Linked DNA regions of Homo sapiens. The protein of the gene in region 2 interacts with the protein of the main gene of each other region in a pairwise test. Each region holds a gene or a part of one and is shown on either strand. Other genes may lie near its edges.

Region 1 (2,961 bases), on a different chromosome or scaffold from region 2:
CAGAGACGGATCCAGGGGCACTTTCTGGCCGCTGCCTGCTCGGGCTCAACAGATGGAGTCCAATGTTTCAGTCTCCCCCAAGAATGTGTATCCTCATTGCTGACACGGGAGCTGGGTGCGGGGAGAGATGTGGTGGTGGGGACCCTTGCCTGAGCAGCCCATTGTCATGAGTGTTATTGCCATTGTGATAATATGTTAGCATGACTCTCCTCCCAAATGGCCGCTTGTTTGTTGCAATCTCCCGCCACTCAGCCTCCAGACATTCATTAACAGGACAGTGGGGTTCTTGACTCCCCTACCACTGGGGTGACAGTCCTTGCTACTGGATCTGGGCAGTTACTGTCTCATGGATGCTGGCAGAAGACGATTCAAGTTGGCGGACTAGATTCTACAAGGAATGATCTCTTGCATAATTCTAGCCAACATGCTCTTGGGGTGGGTGCTTCTGGTTTTGGAAAGCAAAGTTACTGTGTAGTTAACAACTATTGTGGTAAGAATAGTCTCTCCATCATTCTTTTGTTTCACGGTTGTCAGAAAGATGGGCATAACTAATGGTTGGGCTCTTATTTGGAACCTCTACTTTTGTACAGTTTGGGAATCTCTGCTTGAAAAGATGGTATACTGATGGATTTGAAATTTCTGAGTATCATCAATGTTTCATGATGATCTCAATTTCTTCTCAGAGGGAAGCTCACAGCCAGTTTTGGACCCCAGAGAAAAATGTGGCTGCTGCCCTCTACTCCCTCTACCAAATTATCAGCTTCATTTCTTTGTCATGAAATCTAGTATGATTTCTCAGAAATCAGGCCCAGAACTAAAATACATTTTCTGCCCAATTTTCTAAGAGGTCACACTAACATCTGAGTAATTGGGCAGAAAACCTATTTTAGTTCTGAGCCTGATTTTTCTAGAAGTCATATGGTATAGCTTATATTTCCGATGCTTGCATTCTTTTTAAGGGGTCATGAATCTTAATACTTTTTTTTTTAAAAGAAAAGTGTCGCACTTTTTCACATTTTTATAAAGCTTTAAAGTCAGTTTACTGACTTTTCAAAAGTGTCTACCTTTTTAAATTTTAAAATGGTAAGAAATGACATTCCTGAGAGCAGTGGCTTTCATCCTTGCTTGCACTTGGGAATCACCTGTGAAATTTTAAAAACTACTAATGCCTGGCTCTCATCCTAGAGATTCTGATTTCACTGGTCTGGAGTGCTGTTCAGGCATCCTGAGGTTTTAAAGTGTCTTAGCTTTTTCTAATGAGCAGCAGAGACTGAGAACCACTGAAGTACACAGTTGGAAGCTGGTGCTGAAAAAATTAAGAGTTTTGCTGTTAACTCCTTAAGAGGGCTTTAAAGCCTTTTATATTAAGTGCCATACAACTTCAGATGCCTTCTGAATACTGAACACAAGTGTAATATTATAGTTCATTAAATGTCTTAGGAATCGTGTGGAGTGAATGCAAGGAAAGGAGTGACAAGATATCACCCCACAAATGACTTACCCATTACGAAGGGAAAACTACCTTTCTAGCTAAAAGGTCTGTCAGTCACTAACCAAGTGATTAAACTTAGCATCACTAATAGCCAACTTAACAAAGTTTTTTTTTTTTTTTGGTTTCTAAAATGGGAGATCATAGTTTTCACCTTCCTAGAGTTCTTTGCTTAAGACTGAGATTCAGTGTTACTCTTGGTCCCTAACAATAAGAAGCACTCAGTAAATGTTAAGCCTTCTATGATGGCTATTTTATTTTTTTGTATGTCATAATAATACCTAAGAATAAGAAGAGTTAAATTAATGTCTTCAAATGGATTTGTTGACTTAAACTGACACAATCCTTTAAAAGAAGGAACTGATTTGAACCTTTCAAAACTGAAAGAAAGTCGTATACTGATACAGTTTGGAGCCACCGAATGTCATGTTGAACCGTATTCCCTAATGGAGGTGGATCCTGGTGAGAGGTGATTGGATCGTGGGGGCCATCCCCTCTTGGTACTTCACTCATGATAGTGAGTTCTCATGAGATCTGGCACTTCACCCCTCACTCTCTCTTGCTCCTGCTTTGGCCATGTGGAGTGCTCACTCCCCTTTTGCTTTCTGCCATGGCTGTAAGTTTCCTGAGGCGTCCCCAGAAGCCCATCAGATACCAGTGCCATGCTTCCTGTACAGCCCATGGAACTGTGAGCCAACTAAACCTCTTTTATTTATAAATTACCGAGTCTCAGGCACTTTTTATAGCAATGCAACAATGGACTAATACATATACTTTAGCATAAAAACATTTAAAAGAGTCTGAAACTGGAGTAGTTAACTCAGTAAAAATAACTTGGCAATAAAACACAGAAAAACAATCTATTTGATCATGTAGTGATTCCTAATGTAAATCCTAGTACAACTGTCAACTGATAATTTTAAATGTAATTTAGATTTGTAGATGGTGTAACATTAAAGTTGTATGATGTTTTATTGTGTTATTATTAACACAAGACGTCATTTAAATTTCATGGGGATTTAGCTCTGTCACTCTGGTTTGTGGACCAAACGTCTCTAAGGCAGCATTTCTTTAAGTCGCTCTGGAGAGCATTCACACACAGAGATGCTGTCTGCAAAACAGGTTCACTTAGGTTTTTTGAAAGCTCTGAAGTCTGACAGGAAATTAACCTGTGTACTTGTATGCAACCTAGCATTCCCCAAACTTACCTGACCAGAGAAGCCTTTTTTTTTTCTTCCGGTTACAGCAATTCCTAGAAACACTTTGAGTAATGCTGCTTTAAAGAAAACAGTTGGTCTCAAATAATCATGGTATTTTAACATCAGGGACCTAGCAGAAATTGTTCCTGCTTTTAGTCATCTTTTTCTTTTTTAGAGGACAGCCTTTGGTGGTTCAAGCATCCATTTGAGGAAAGCAAATGGCCTGTTGCATGCTGCCTCCTCCTACTTCATAAAGTGACTGACAGCTGTCAA
Region 2 (7,157 bases):
GCTGAGAGCACAAACTGGAGCCAGACTGCTTGGGGGTGTGGGGATCTGGCTGTGCTCTGTGATCGCTGTGTGACCTTGGGCAGGTCACTTAACCTTTCTGGTACTGCGTTTCTTCATCTGCAAAATGGGAGTAATATCATAGGGATGCTGTGAGGATCTAAATGAGTTAATACTGATGAACTAACTGCTTAGAACAAGGTTTGCCCCTTACTAAATACTGTGCACGGTGGTAATAAGTAATAATAATTGATTTCTCCTACTTTTCTTCCTCTAGTCTATATCACTACCCTTCAGACACACTGGACTCTTTTCTCTCCTTCATACAAGTCAAGCCTTTTTCTGTCTCCAAGTCTCTGCTCTTGCTGTTTTCTTTACCTGTGTTCTCTCTCACATATCACTTTATGCTCTTCAGATCCTTTGTCGCAATGTCACCCTTATGTTTTATGGTATGGTCCTGCTGTGTTTTTGTCTTCCCTGACTGCATGCTCACTCGTGCTCTCTCTCAATCATGCGCTCTCTCTCTCTCTCCCTCCCTCCCTCTCTCTCCCTCCCTCTCCCTCCCTCCCTCCCCCCCACTCTCAACTGTGTATTCTAGAGAGTCAGGACCTTCCTTCTCATTCTTGATCATTCTCATAGTAGCCCTGCCCCTTGAGTGGAACATGGCATTTAGTAAAGGATGAATAAGGGAAGGAATCATTCTGAGAAAATACTGAAGATGATAGCTATGGACTTGAGGCAAGCATCCCATTTAGGTAAAATGCTTTGTCCGACATTGAATTTATCATATCAGCTTCATTTAATGCATTATGAGATGTTGTCTTTATTTTTCCTTCTGTATCCCATGGCTTCTCACCATTCCCCTCCCCCTCCACCCCGCCCTCTGAGGTTGCTGCCTGCAGACCATGGGAAACATCCAGTGGGTTGTCCCTGGGATCACATCTCTTGGGAAGCTCAGCTCCAAAGGGTCTAGCAAAGCCCAGGGCTTCTAGGTTAGGTATCTCCCACAGAACCTTCTGTGTCAAGAATCTGGGAAAGTTTGTCCTTATACCTGCAGGGGAACCTGGAATTTATTCTGTCTTGTTATAAATCTAGTATTCTTAGATTCCTGAAGAACAGAATTACCAGTTTTTTCTCAGAGGAGATTTCATCAGGCATGTGTGTTTAGTGCCTTATTACACAGAAGGCACACTCCAGAGAAGAAGAAAGCAGGTAATTTGCTTATTTGGCTTTAACAGAGTTTCAACAGAGTTCGTGTGAGTGCAAGCTTGTGCTCTATAACCAAGAACCATTCACTGGAACTTGAGCATCCTGCTGATCTTCCCTCCCCCACTCCCAGCCAGTGCAGCCATGTATTAAGCAATTGTTTTCAGTACCAACAGTTTACCAAAGTGTTGGAATAAAAACGACATCTAAAACTTGAATATTTTATATGGCCAAACTATGGCTATTTAACTATACAGTTGAATATATTTGGATTATAACATATTTATCTCTTAAAGGGACAGATCTTCCATCCTCCTAACATATAGTTAGCTTCCACTCTCCAAATATTCCACCAGCAACATTGATGAATATTGAAGACTATGGACTGTGAGGTACTGTGAAAGACCCACTCTAGGACCTGCTTGCTGCTATTTGCCTTACTTGAACCAGTAATCAAGTGCTGGATAAATAATATGATTTCTATTCAACTTTTTGTTTTTAGCCCTTAGGGAACAATCTACTGAATATGCAATGCAATTGTCGGGGGATAGTTACTTTTCATTACCTAGGTTTCTGTTCCTTCTTTTAAGTGTAATTTAAATCTGGCTGTCATGAAGGTTTGGCGCTCAAACAGATTTTAGCATCTGTTTAATGTAGAAGTGGACTGGAACTAGCATTCTGAAAATGTAGTCTGAACCCAAAGAAATCCCATGACTCTCCTTTTCTGTCCTATCATAGAAACAGATAATTACATTTTTAAAGTTTTTGTGTGTGGGTGTGTGTGTTGTCATTTTGAGGTGGGGTTTCACCATGTTGCCCAGGCTAGACTCAAACTCCTAGGCTGAAGCAGTCCTCCCACCTCAGCCTCCCAAGTAGCAGGGATTACAGGTGTGCACTACTGCACCCAGCTTAAGTTTTACTTTGTTTCTAATAGATATATAATATTGGATATATTTATGAGATACAGTGTGATGTTTTAGTACGTATATACATTGTGTAATGAGCAAGAGGATTGCGTTTATGGGCCAGGCACGGTGGCTCATGCCTGTAACCCCAGCACTTTGGGAAGCCAAGGTGGGTGGATCACCTGAGGTCAGGAGTTCGAGACCAGTCTGATCAACATGGTAAAAACCCATCTCTACTAAAAATACAAAAATTAACCGGGGCGTGGTAGCACACACCTGTAGTCCCAGCTACTTAGGAGGCTGAGGCAGAAGAATCACTTGAACCTGGGAGGCAGAGGTTGCAGTGAGCTGAGATGGCACCACTGCACTCCACCCTGGCAACACAGTGAGACTCCGTCTCAAAAAAAAAAAAAATTGTTTTTATGTTACTTCCCTCTAGGCTCTTTAATTTCTCCATTGAGCATTGTGTGAGCTCCGCTGAGCATTGTATGGAGGGTCAGCTGCCCTGGCTGGAGATGGTTTTGAGGCTTGTTCCTTCGTGGAAACATCTGGATGCAGAAGTTAGGCTGTACAACTATCCAGGGGAGCTTTAAGTGAGCCAAGTGGACCCTCAGCACCACCTCAGAGTGTTCTAAGCTACCGTCTGGTGTTTGGGACTCAGGGAAGTCCTTTTGGTATGATCAGACTAGCCCTTTATGTGACTATCCTTGTGTGTTACTCTCATTAAAATATTGATTTTTGCCATGTAAGGAAGATTGGAATAGCACAGGCAGCCGAATAAGGATTTTAATGAAACATTGGAGAATGGCTTCAAGTTAATCTGTGAATGCTTTGTCATTGTCCCATCCCTGGACACATTAAAAAGAAAAAAAAGAGCAGTTGAGAAATTGCAGTACAATTTGAGGAGAGCAATATCATACACAGAAGTAGGGACTACTTTTGTCAAAGCTGGATTTTATTTATTTGGGAGCAAAGAGAGAGAGCTGAAAGACATAATCTTCTCTCCCTTAAGAATCTCATTGTCATTTAGTAAAATAAAAGGTAGTGTCACTTCATGGCTCAGAAGTGGTAAATTATTTGAGGCAGGTACCCAAATCCATAAAGCCTGCCTTTTGCTTTGTTTGTGGAATGCTGATTGTGTGCTGGGGAATTTCTGATGGGCAGCCAAGAGGAATTTGGGAAGTAGTGAAGGAGACCTTTACCCCAGGAGTGTTCTATTGGATGTAGTTCAGGAAGCTTTCTGGGTAAGCCTTGCAACCAAAGGAACCCTGCCCCAGTAAGATACGTCAAATGGTGGCAGAAGCAAGAATTAGAGGAAAGGTTGAGCAACATTTTGGTATTTGAATAGCTGTGTTCCCAGGAAACTCTGTCAGTAAAATTTCTAGAGGTTAAGTACCTTAGCCAGATGTCATAATGAACCCCTGTGTTGCTAACTCAAATGCTGGAATGGAGCATGTGTTTTAGGAGTTAGACCAACACTGCCTCATCTTAAGCCCAAGTCTGATCACTCCTAAACTGAAACTTTGCAAATGTGTGTGTTGTAGCTTACTTAAAACCCATTGGGTGTCTGCTAACTCTGGCTACACTGAAAAGTTTTTGCTATTCTACCACCCACGGACGTCAGAGCCCTGCTGCTTACCAGGGCATGTTAGTCTCCTAATCTACCCCTGAAAACCTACCATGGCCCGGGGCTTTTCTGCTACCCCCCACGTCCTATACCCTGCTTGCTTCAAAATACTGTTCCTAGTTTTCTTCCCCTAACTTGATAATGTACTCCAAAACAATCATGTTTGGCAAGTAATACACTGATAAATGTAAAAGTTACAAATAGAAGTGCTGCTGTGTTTTTAAAACATTATAGGGCCAGGAGCAGTGGTTCATGCCTCTTATCCCAGCACTTTGGGAGGCTGAGAGAGGCAAATTGCTTGAGCTCAGGAGTTCGAGACCAGCCTGGCCAACATAGCGAAACCCCGTCTGTACTAAAAATACAAAAAATTAGCTGGGCATGGTGGCACACACCTGTAATATCAGCTACTTTGAGGCAGAAGGATTGCTTGAGTCCAGAGGTCAAGCCTGCAGTGAGCCCTGATTGTGCCACTTCCACTCCAGCCCGGATGACAGAGGGGGACCCTGTCTCAAAACAAAAACAAAACAAAACAAAAACCCAGCCAGGTACGGTGGCTCACACCTGTAATCCCAGCACTTTCGGAGGCCAAGGAGGGTGGATCACTTGAGGTCAGGAGTTCAAGACCAGCCTGGCCAACATGGCGAAACCCTGTCTCTACTAAAATACAACAATTAGCTGGGCATGGTGGTGCATGTCTGTAATCTCAGCTACTTAGGAGGCTGAGGCAGGAGAATCACTTGAACCCAGGAGGTGGAGGTTGCAGTGAGCCAAGATCGTGCCACTGCACTCTGCCACTCACTCTAGCCTGTGGGACAGAGAGAGACTCCGTCTTAAAAAAAAAAAAAAACCCACATTCTAGAAATAATTAGGTTTCTAAAGTATTCTTAAAAGGGGCATCTGTGGAAACCAGCCACTAATAACATATTTAAAGGAGAGAGACTGAATGCTTCCCCCTAAGATGAGGAAAGAGGCAAGGATGTCGGCACTTGCCACTGGTATTCAACATTGCATTGCCCCTAACCAGGACAATCAGTCAAGAAAAAAAAATAAATAAAAGACATCCACATTGGAAAGGAAGAAGTAAAACTGTCTCTCTTTGCAGATGGTATGATCCTCTATGTAAAGTATTCCAACGATCGTGGATCTGTCTCTCCCTCCCCTATGCTCTTGGGCCCTGGCTCTGTTTCTCTCCTGGAGTAGAAGCCTGTGGTGCAGCAGGATTCAATTGCCTTCAATTGAACGTTGCAGAGGACTTTCCCCTCGGTGCTTCCCGTACTGGGGGAAGAGGTGATTTAACTTCTGAGTAAGGGACAAACCCAGTAGTGTGTTAGTAGCAAAAAGCATGGACACTGGCATCAGTCTGCCTGTATTCAGACACCAGCTGTGCACTCATCAGCTGTGGGACCTTAGGCAAATTGTTGAATTTCTCTTTGCCTCCATTTCCTCATCCATAGAATGGGGATAATAATAGTAACTATCATATGGGATTGTTGTAAGGATGGAAAGTGTTAAAATATCTAAACTCTGTTACAGTGCCTGCCATAAAAGAAGCACTCTAGGCCTGGCGCGGTGGCCCATGCTTGTAATCCCAGCACTTTGGGAGGCTGAGGCAGGTGGACTGCTTGAGGTCAGGAGTTCGAGACCAGCCTGGCCAACATGGCGAAACCCCATCTCTACTAAAAATACAAAAATTAGCTGGGTGTAGTGACATGTGCCTGTGATCCCAGCTACTCTGGAGGTTGAGGCATGAGAATTGCTTGAACCCGGGAGGCAGAGGCTGCAGTGAGCTGAGATAGCACCCCTACACTCCAGCCTTGGTGACAGAGCAAGACCCTGTCTCAAAACAAAACAAAACAAAAGAAGCACTCTATGGGACCAGGTCTTATAGTTAGGTATTATATATGTAGTAGTGATATTTTCAGTTTTGCTGTTTCTGCCAGATGGGATGAAAAATTCCATGAGAAGTTGGCTGGAAGTCCTACTGATTCATTAAATAGGCCTTTCATTTGAAGTCATGTTTCTAATCATTCAGAAGTTGAGGTATGCCTGATCCATGGTATTAGAAGGGATGATCCCAGAGAGGTCATTCTGTAGCATAATGAGCATTACTTTTGAAGGATGGAGAACCTAGAACTCTGACTCATTTGACTATGGGAAAATCTGATCTGGTGAGTGACCATGACCATGAAGTGAGATCTGGTAACCCAATGGTGGTCACAGGATAGAGACTCTGAAGATACTGAGCTGGCTTACACACTTGCTTTGTTGTCTCGAACCTCTGTTAAAGCTGAAAGAAGAAGTCAGTCTTCTGCTGGGCACACTGTTAGTGTGTAATTGTGAAGAGCTTAGCTGGAGCTTGCTCTTCACAACAGTCTCTGATCTCATCAGCCCCATTCTGTTTTCAGGGGTGGTACAGAAGGAGCACCTCAGGAGCCTCCAAAGATAGTAGTAGAATATAACCACCAAGACAAGACTGTGACTGTGGTTTTGAATCAGATAGAATCACCACCTCCTGCAAATTTTGTTTTTGCTCAGAACAGTGGTTCTTAAAATGTGGTCCTTGACCAACATCATCAGCATTACCTAGGAACTAGTTAGATATGATAATACTCAGGCCCCACCTAACATGACTGAACCAGAAACTCTGGGACTGAGGTATGTTTTAACAAACTCTCCAGGTGATTTTAATGCCACCAAAGTTTGAGAACCACTGATCTAGGATATAGAACAGCAGCATTCTACTGAGTTTCTGTCTTCATGCAAGTTGCTATAAAAAATATAAGCAAGGAGACACGCTCTCTGTCCTCAAAGAGCACATAGTCCATCTAGAGAGGTATACTATATTCAATGCCACACAAAGGAGGCCTTCCCAGCCGGGATCCTGATGCAACAGCCCTGCCCAGTCTCTATGCCATTGCCGTGTGTTTTCCCCAGAAGAGTTCCCATTCTTGGCCAGGTGCCTGTAATCCTAGCACTCTGGGAGGCTGAGGCAGGTGGATCACCTGAGGTCAGGAGTTCGAGACCAGCCTGGCCTACGTGGTGAAACCCCGTCTCTACTAAAAATACAAAAATGAGCCTGGTGTGATGGTGGGCACCTATAATCCCTGCTACTCGGGAGGCTGAGGAAGGAGAATCACTTGAACCCAGGGGGCGGAGGTTGCAGTGAGCCTAGATCGTGCCACTTCACTCTAGCCTGGGGGGAAGAGCAAAACTTTGTCTCAAAACAAAAAAAGAGTTCCCACTCCCTGAAGCTGTTTTTTGTTTGCATGTTTGTTGTCAGTCTCCTGTCATCATTCGAAGGTCAGGGCCTTGAGGGCAGGACCCTTTCTTGTTCACTGCTGCATCCCCACCCCTCAGCAGTTCCTGGCATAGACAGCAAGTGCTTTATATATTCTGGTTGAATAAATGAATTAAGTGTTCTT
Region 3 (7,000 bases), on a different chromosome or scaffold from region 2:
GTGGTGGCGCATGCCTGTAATCCTAGCTACTCAGGAAGGCTGAGGCAGGAGACTCGCTTGAACCTGGGAGGCGGAGGTCGTGGTGAGCCCAGATCACGCCACTGCACTCCAGCCTGGGCAACAAGAGTGAAACTTCGTCTCAAAAAAAAAAAAAAAAAAAAAGATTTATTTCAATGAGCTAGCTAAAAATTAGCTCCATTGCCACGTGTTGTTCAGTTTAGGACAAGAATCAACTGGCTCTTTTGTGCTTGGATCAAACAAGTGGATTAAATCCCACAATGAGTATTATGAAGAGTTTCCTACCTGTAAGAAAATTTTCCCTGATCTATATAATATCTGCTTCTGATTGAGTCAAAAAGAAGAAAGGCTTTTTAGATGTAAGAGATAGGTATCCTGCCACTGTTGCAGGATCCTGTGTCATGTATTTAGACCTTTATCTAAAGACGGATGTAAATATCCGGGGAATGTTCATAGGAAAGCCCTGAAAATTCTTGAGCCATATAATATGATCACAGAATATAAGATGCAGATTGCAAATGTAAATTATTAAGCCATGTAAAACAATAATAGAATGTAAGATGCAGTTGCAAATATCTCCGGAAGGCACCTTGCAGAAGAATCTATGTGTGGCCTCTCCTCACGATCTAGAATTTGGGCAAGAGAGATGAAGCCAGTGAAGAAGGCAGTGTGTCTTCATGATCCAGTTTTGAGGCAAGACTCAGATGGCACAGGTAGCACACACCTACTGTGTCACAGGCTCTTCACCCTCAGGGCACATTGGAATCTCCGGGCGTTACTTCTAAAAGATACTAATTCCTCAGCTGATTCTAATGGGCAGACAGCTGAGAAGCACTGTACAGTCTATTGTTTGGCTGGGAGTGTCTGACAGTTTCATGTGCTTTTTTTTTTTTTTTTTTTTTCATTTGAGAGAGTCTCACTCCTGCCACCCAGGCTGGAGTGCAGTAGTATGCTCATAGCTCACTGCAGCCTTGACCTCTTGGGCTCAAGCGATCCTCCCACCTCAGACTCCTCAGTATCTGGGACCACAGGTGTAAACCGTCATGTCTGGCTATTTTTTTATTTTTATTTTTTGTTGTGACAGACCATTTTATAATGACATAAAGTCTGTGAATATTAATCATGTAAGGGATAGCGCTCAGCGGTCTTCCTCTTAGAGCTGAGGACAGGTCAGTGAGGGCACTAGGCTACAGGAAGAGGCATTTCCTATAGATGACGGCTGTAAAATTTTAAGCTGAGTTCCTCCAGGAAGTCATAGAGTAATTAGTGGTTTTTTTCAACACACCAGAGTCCTAATTTGTGATCTCTAAGGGACAGCATAAATAAAGGCATGAGAGGCCAAGGAGGTGCATTGACACTCATTCTATGGCTCATTTGAAACTAGATATTTCCTTTTGTGCTAATCTTTATGGGTCCCAGCTGCCTTTTATGAGGGCTGAAAATAGCACCAGGGCTTTGGCCTCAGGAGCTCTGTAAATGGGGAGATGTTTCTGTCCCCTGAGAAACTGAAGATTCTTTGTACTGGGATGTCTTTTTCCCGTGTGGCTTCCCCTGGCTTTGAAGCAGTTCTGCAGGTTTTGAGTGGGGATGAGAGGTGACCCTATCCCTGGATTCCAGAAATGCACTTAACTCAAGAGGGATTTCCTCTGTCAAGATATCCCTAGGGCCTTTAAGTGCTCCCCTCGCACCTCTGACAGGCTAGGCCTCAGAGTCAGTGTAAAGTGCACTTGGGAAATCCAACATTTGTCCCCTCATCTAGATTTTCTCAAAGTCCATTCTTAAAATTTCTGGGAGGCCTCTACAACTAAACAGCCCACAATCGTTAAATGTATATTACTTGTAGAAGGCACAGGTGTGGAATATAAGAACAGGGCAGTTTAAGAGCACCCCTCCTCTATGTGGTTTCAGTTTACGCAGGAAGATAAGGCCAGGCTCTGTTTGTTTTTGAACCTGAAACCGGACAGGGCAGTCAGTGGCAACAGCAGATGGGCTATGTGGACAGCTCAGGTATTGGAAGATCTCACTAAGGGCAGGTGGGGAGGGAGGCTTCCACCAAAGGGGAGATTTGACCTAACTCCCGAAAGGTGGGAGGCCTCAGACCAGAGGTCTGCCATGGCCTCCTCCCACCTCCCTTACAATCTGGTCCACTAGGTGCAGGTGGGGCCTAGGTATGTGTCAGTTAAAATCCTTACCCAGTGATTCTGATGTGCAGCCAGGCTTGGGCACCTCTAATTGAGAAGGTTGGAAATACAGTCCAAGTGTGGACTGACCGATTCGTTTTCTGATGGCCAGCACCAAAATAAGAATGGCAGAGAAGGCCAGTCGCGGTGGCTCATGCCTGTAATCCCAGCACTTTGGGAGGTTGAGGCGGGAGGATCACGAGGTCAGGAGATCGAGACCATCCTGGCTAACACAGTGAAACCCCGTCTCTACTAAATATACAAAAAATTAGCCGGGCGTGGTGGCGGGCGCCTGTAGTCCCAGCTACTCGGGAGGCTGAGGCAGGAGAATGGCGTGAACCCGGGAGGCGGAGCTTGCAGTGAGCGGAGATCGTGCTGCTGCACTCCAGCCTGGGCGACAGAGCGAGACTCCATCTCAAGAAAAAAAGAAAAAAAAAAAAAAGAATGGGAGAGAAAGCAGGCCAGGTGGCCAGGTGTCGGTCAGGAGCGAGTCTCCTCGAGTGCCGGCTGCTGCTTTGTGGGATGGTGAACGCTGAGGAATGACTGAGGCGCAGTTGCACCCTTTGGCCGAACTCCCAATAATTGTTTAGCAGATGCTTTGTGTCCATTATCTCTAGTTTTTGCAACAGTCCTGTGAGCTAATTTACTATTTATATATTTTAAAGCTGAGGACTTTGGGGCCTATGAGTTTCAGTAGCTTGCTTAAAGCCACCTTGCCTTTAAGTGGTATATCTTGGTTTGGAATCCAAGTGTGTTAGATACAGACACATTTTTTCCCCATTGTATTCTGTTGTTTCCCATGGTCTCCATGAAAGAATTATCTAATGGTGGAGTGGGAAGTAGGAGAAGAGTCATGGGACCATATAGGGTAAGGTGGGGGCCCCTCTGTGACACCCTCATAAACCGGAGCTCTGCACAGTGATGTGGACAAAAGGGAAAGTTGGAGAGCTTTGTGGAGACACACAGCAGGGATTGGTTCTGGCTCATCTCTCTGAATTGCGTCTTTGAAATGGACTAGTGCACACCCTGAAGGGCTGTTAGGGTTAAGTGAAATGACGCTGGTGCTCAATAAACCATAGCAGTTGTACTTGTTTTCATTGACCCCTCCTCTGCCTCACTCCAGCCTTCTCACTCCAGCTTTGCAGCTTATTTCCTGTTGTCTCTTGCAGCTGTCCTTTCATTTCCCTTCCCAACCCTTTTTTACATAGAACCTAGGCCACAGCAGTAGCCTTGTAGCTTTTTCTTGGTGTTTCCACTCTAAACCACACATGATTTTCCCTTAATTTTCAACTCGGCTCTGGTGTTTCAAAACCTTCAAGTTTCCAGTGCACACCCAATTAAGTCCAATCTATTCTGGGACAGCTATCAACACCCTCTGAGTGTGCTCCCAGCCTTTCACTCTCTCTAATCTTAACTTTCATTATTTGCCTCTGAAACCCACATTCCAGTCGGCAGGCTAGTCTGCTGGCCGGTTCCATTACGAATCCACACTTTGGATGCTCTTTCCTGGGTTTGGAATGCCTTCAAAAATCCATCTTTCAAAATCCTGCCTATCCTCCCCACTTCAGAGCCCCCAGAGGATTTTCTTGCTAACTTCTTGATGAGGTTCTGTTCTGCCTCTGATCTCTCTTTTTGAAAACTTGATTCAGTAGAGTGTTGCCCTAAGGTCAGGGTCTTGCTGCCTTCATTTCTGTGTCTCTGGCACATCCTAGGTATTCAGAACTGTCTGTTGCAACACAATGACTGCCTCACAATCTCCCTCTGCCTTTCTAGGCTAACAAGGAAAGCCCCTGGAGCTCCTGTAATAAGAATGTGGTTGGAAGATGCAAACTGTGGATGATCATCACCTCCATTTTCCTAGGTGTCATTACAGTGATCATCATAGGCTTATGTCTTGCTGCAGGTAAGAGGATTTAGATGTGAATAAATAACACATTTTAAGAACTTACTTAAGGCTTGTGACTTACACTGAAATGGAAGATGTACTCATAGCCATTTCATTATTTATAATGTGAATTTAAGACCGGCTTGGAATATATTGTATGGGTGGGAGATATGCCTGATTCTTGTGTTTTTGTTTTCTGTTGTTGTTGTATTTTGTTGTTTTATAAGCTCCAGAAGAAATATAGAAACCAGTGTTTTACTTTAAACTCTGCTCATTGGATCTTGAAGAGGTTTCTTAATGTTTCAACTTACTTAAACACTGATTTATATTTTATTTATATCCTGATACCTGTTGATTTGAATTCTTTTTCTTTTCATTTGTTTGCTAAAAATAATTATACTTCATCTGGTGTGTCTGATATATTACTATGATGATAAAATAATAAATAATGTATTTGAAAGAGTTTTAAAAAACTTTGAAGAACCATGTGTCCATAAGCTGTCATTATTTTAACTTATTGTATTTATTTATTTTTTTTTTTGAGAGAAAGTCTTACTCTGTCACCCAGGCTAGAGTGCAGTGGCACGACTTTGGCTCGCTGCAACCTCTGCCTCCCAAGTTCAAGGAATTCTCATGCCTCAGCCTCCGAAATAGCTGGAATTATAGGCATGTGCCACCACGCCCAGCTAATTTTTGTATTTTTAGTAGAGACGGGGTTTTGCCATGTTGTCCGGGTTGGTCTTGAACTCCTGACCTCAAGTGATCTGCCTGCCTTGGCCTCCCAAATTGCTGGGATTAGAGGCATGAGCCACCATGCTTGGCCCAATTTTAACTTGTTTTAGAAATGACTGTTTATTTTATTAGTGTTGTATGTGTGTATAAAACAAAAAATGTATAGAATGCTAACTATATATGACTACATCTATTCCATATATTATTTCATGTTGTTGCTTATTTTGATTGAAAAATGATATATGTTCAGTTACCCATAAAACCCATCTGTAATATTAATATTTGGTCATATTTTCTTCTAGTCTTTTGTTTAGTTGCATTTCTAAAATAATTTGAGATTAGATTTCTTTATAGTCTTGTGGACTACCTTTAGGATTTTGATATTATGTTTAGATCATTTTGCCAAGTCATTAAAAATTATTTGTGAACATTATTATTTTTATGATTTGCATGATACAGTCTTCCACATCATTTAAAGTTCTTTAGGTAGTTACCAATTTTTTAATGATTATTAGTATTCGTTAAAGTTTTTACATCCTCCAGTGGACAATCATTTCAATTCAAAATGGGAAAGAAGAAAATTGTTTTTATTTATATGTGGGGGTGATGGTAGAGAGGGGCTCGACTGAGGCTGGGATACTCCCGAGCATGATCCAGCCTTCATGCGGCATGGGTTGAGTCCAGCTCCCAGTTACAAACCCAGTCATAGAATGAGAAGAAGAAGGGGTAACTCCCCAGTCTCTCCAGAGGGAGTTCTCAGGAATTTTCCTCAGAAACTACATTTTCCATTTACCGCTTGTTTCCCCTTCTCCCAACCCCTTAATTTCCTGTCTTAGAGTTTTGTAATTCCTGAAGGAATAGGAAAACTTTGATGACATCAGCCAACCTCCAGCACATAAGTTTCCTGGCCAGGCACCATATCTACGTATTTACTTAGGGCATTGTTCAGGTGTGTTGGATGACTGTTTGAGGATATAAGCTGGTGTTAAGGTAGGAAAAAGCTAATGAAGTGTGCTGCACCTCCTCCGTCATGCTGAGGACAATAGTTTTGGTGTGAGCATTGCCATACTTCCTATTCATATCAATTCCAACACATGGATGTTGAAAATGAGGTTGAGTAGCACAATCTTGTCCTGACATAACTAGTTGGTGCTATCCTAGAAGTTGATATTTGGATCCTGTTGGCATCTGGGGCCTATCATAAAGGATGATTCAAGAGATCTAGATGGTTTAATATTCAGGATTCTAAAGCGCAAGACCCAGGATCTGTCTTCCATTCTCAAAAAGTCATCTAACCTCTTCACCTCACAAAGAGCAGTCTGCAAGAGGAAGGTATTTCACTTCCTTCCACAGTTTTTCTGGAGATGTAAAAGGTTATGGGATAATATTCAGGGAAGAATTTTTTTAACACTTGTAGTGCAAACTTTATTTTTAATTTAACTGTAAATTTGTGTTCGAACATGTCAATGCTGTAAGAGAGATTTTTTCAAACTACTTTTTAAATCAAGGAAATACTTGTATTTTACTTGGCATCTCAGCTCTTAGGTATTTGATCCTGTGGGGAGAGTCATGTTAGACGTGGGGGTGGGGGGAGATACAGTAGGTTAAAAGGGGTGGGGCAGGGGCTCCCTTCTGTGACAGTCCCAGCCTCACCTAGAGCAGTTCCGTAGGCATTTTTTGGGGATGATCTTCAATAATCAGCCACTTCCTAATTGCCAAGCCCATTAATATGAATCAGATATTTGTGGAACTTTCAAGTACTGCATGGGAAATGTTGTCTGGGGATAAAAACACTGTTGGGAGAGTCAAGGGCTGTGCCTGTGGCTGTCTGGATTTACTGGGTGACTAAGGTTCCTCAGGAACTATATTTGCCATTCATTGCCTGCTTACCCTTCTCTAGACCCCTTAATCTCCTGTCTCAAGGCTCTGTAGTCTTCAGACTGAAGCTTGGAGGCGGAAGTGTTAACTTTTGTTCTTCAGTAGGCAGGTCTTTGCAAAACTACCCAGAAAGGCTGAGGAAGCTGAGAGGCTAAAGAAAAACTGACAAATCCAGTTACTCAGAAAGAAACATTTAACAGGGTTTTAGGAACAGAAGCCATGCGTTGGGCAGCAGTGAGAGGAGATGGTGCATTCCTGCACCATTACCCCAAAGGCCCAGGGCTTAAATACCACAGAAAAAGGGTAT

Evidence for each region. The genes of interacting proteins can lie anywhere in the genome.
Region 1: the proteins of MGST3 (region 2) and FUNDC2 interact in binary tests that used the Homo sapiens proteins (3 or more experiments, as listed by UniProt).
Region 3: the proteins of MGST3 (region 2) and C3orf52 interact in binary tests that used the Homo sapiens proteins (3 or more experiments, as listed by UniProt).

What each region holds. Positions count from the first base shown.
Region 1 is NC_000023.11:155,057,844-155,060,804, forward strand, and holds the end of FUNDC2 (FUN14 domain-containing protein 2), read left to right. Parts: 3' UTR 1-2,461; downstream 2,462-2,961. UniProt on the Homo sapiens protein: Binds directly and specifically 1,2-Diacyl-sn-glycero-3-phospho-(1'-myo-inositol-3',4',5'-bisphosphate) (PIP3) leading to the recruitment of PIP3 to mitochondria and may play a role in the regulation of the platelet activation via AKT/GSK3B/cGMP signaling pathways.
Region 2 is NC_000001.11:165,634,228-165,641,384, forward strand, and holds part of MGST3 (glutathione S-transferase 3, mitochondrial), read left to right. Parts: intron 1-7,157. UniProt on the Homo sapiens protein: Displays both glutathione S-transferase and glutathione peroxidase activities toward oxyeicosanoids, as part of cellular detoxification as well as synthesis of bioactive metabolites.
Region 3 is NC_000003.12:112,089,389-112,096,388, forward strand, and holds part of C3orf52 (TPA-induced transmembrane protein), read left to right. Parts: intron 1-3,971; coding exon 3,972-4,101; intron 4,102-7,000. UniProt on the Homo sapiens protein: Has a role in LIPH-mediated synthesis of 2-acyl lysophosphatidic acid (LPA). LPA is a bioactive lipid mediator involved in different biological processes, and necessary to promote hair formation and growth.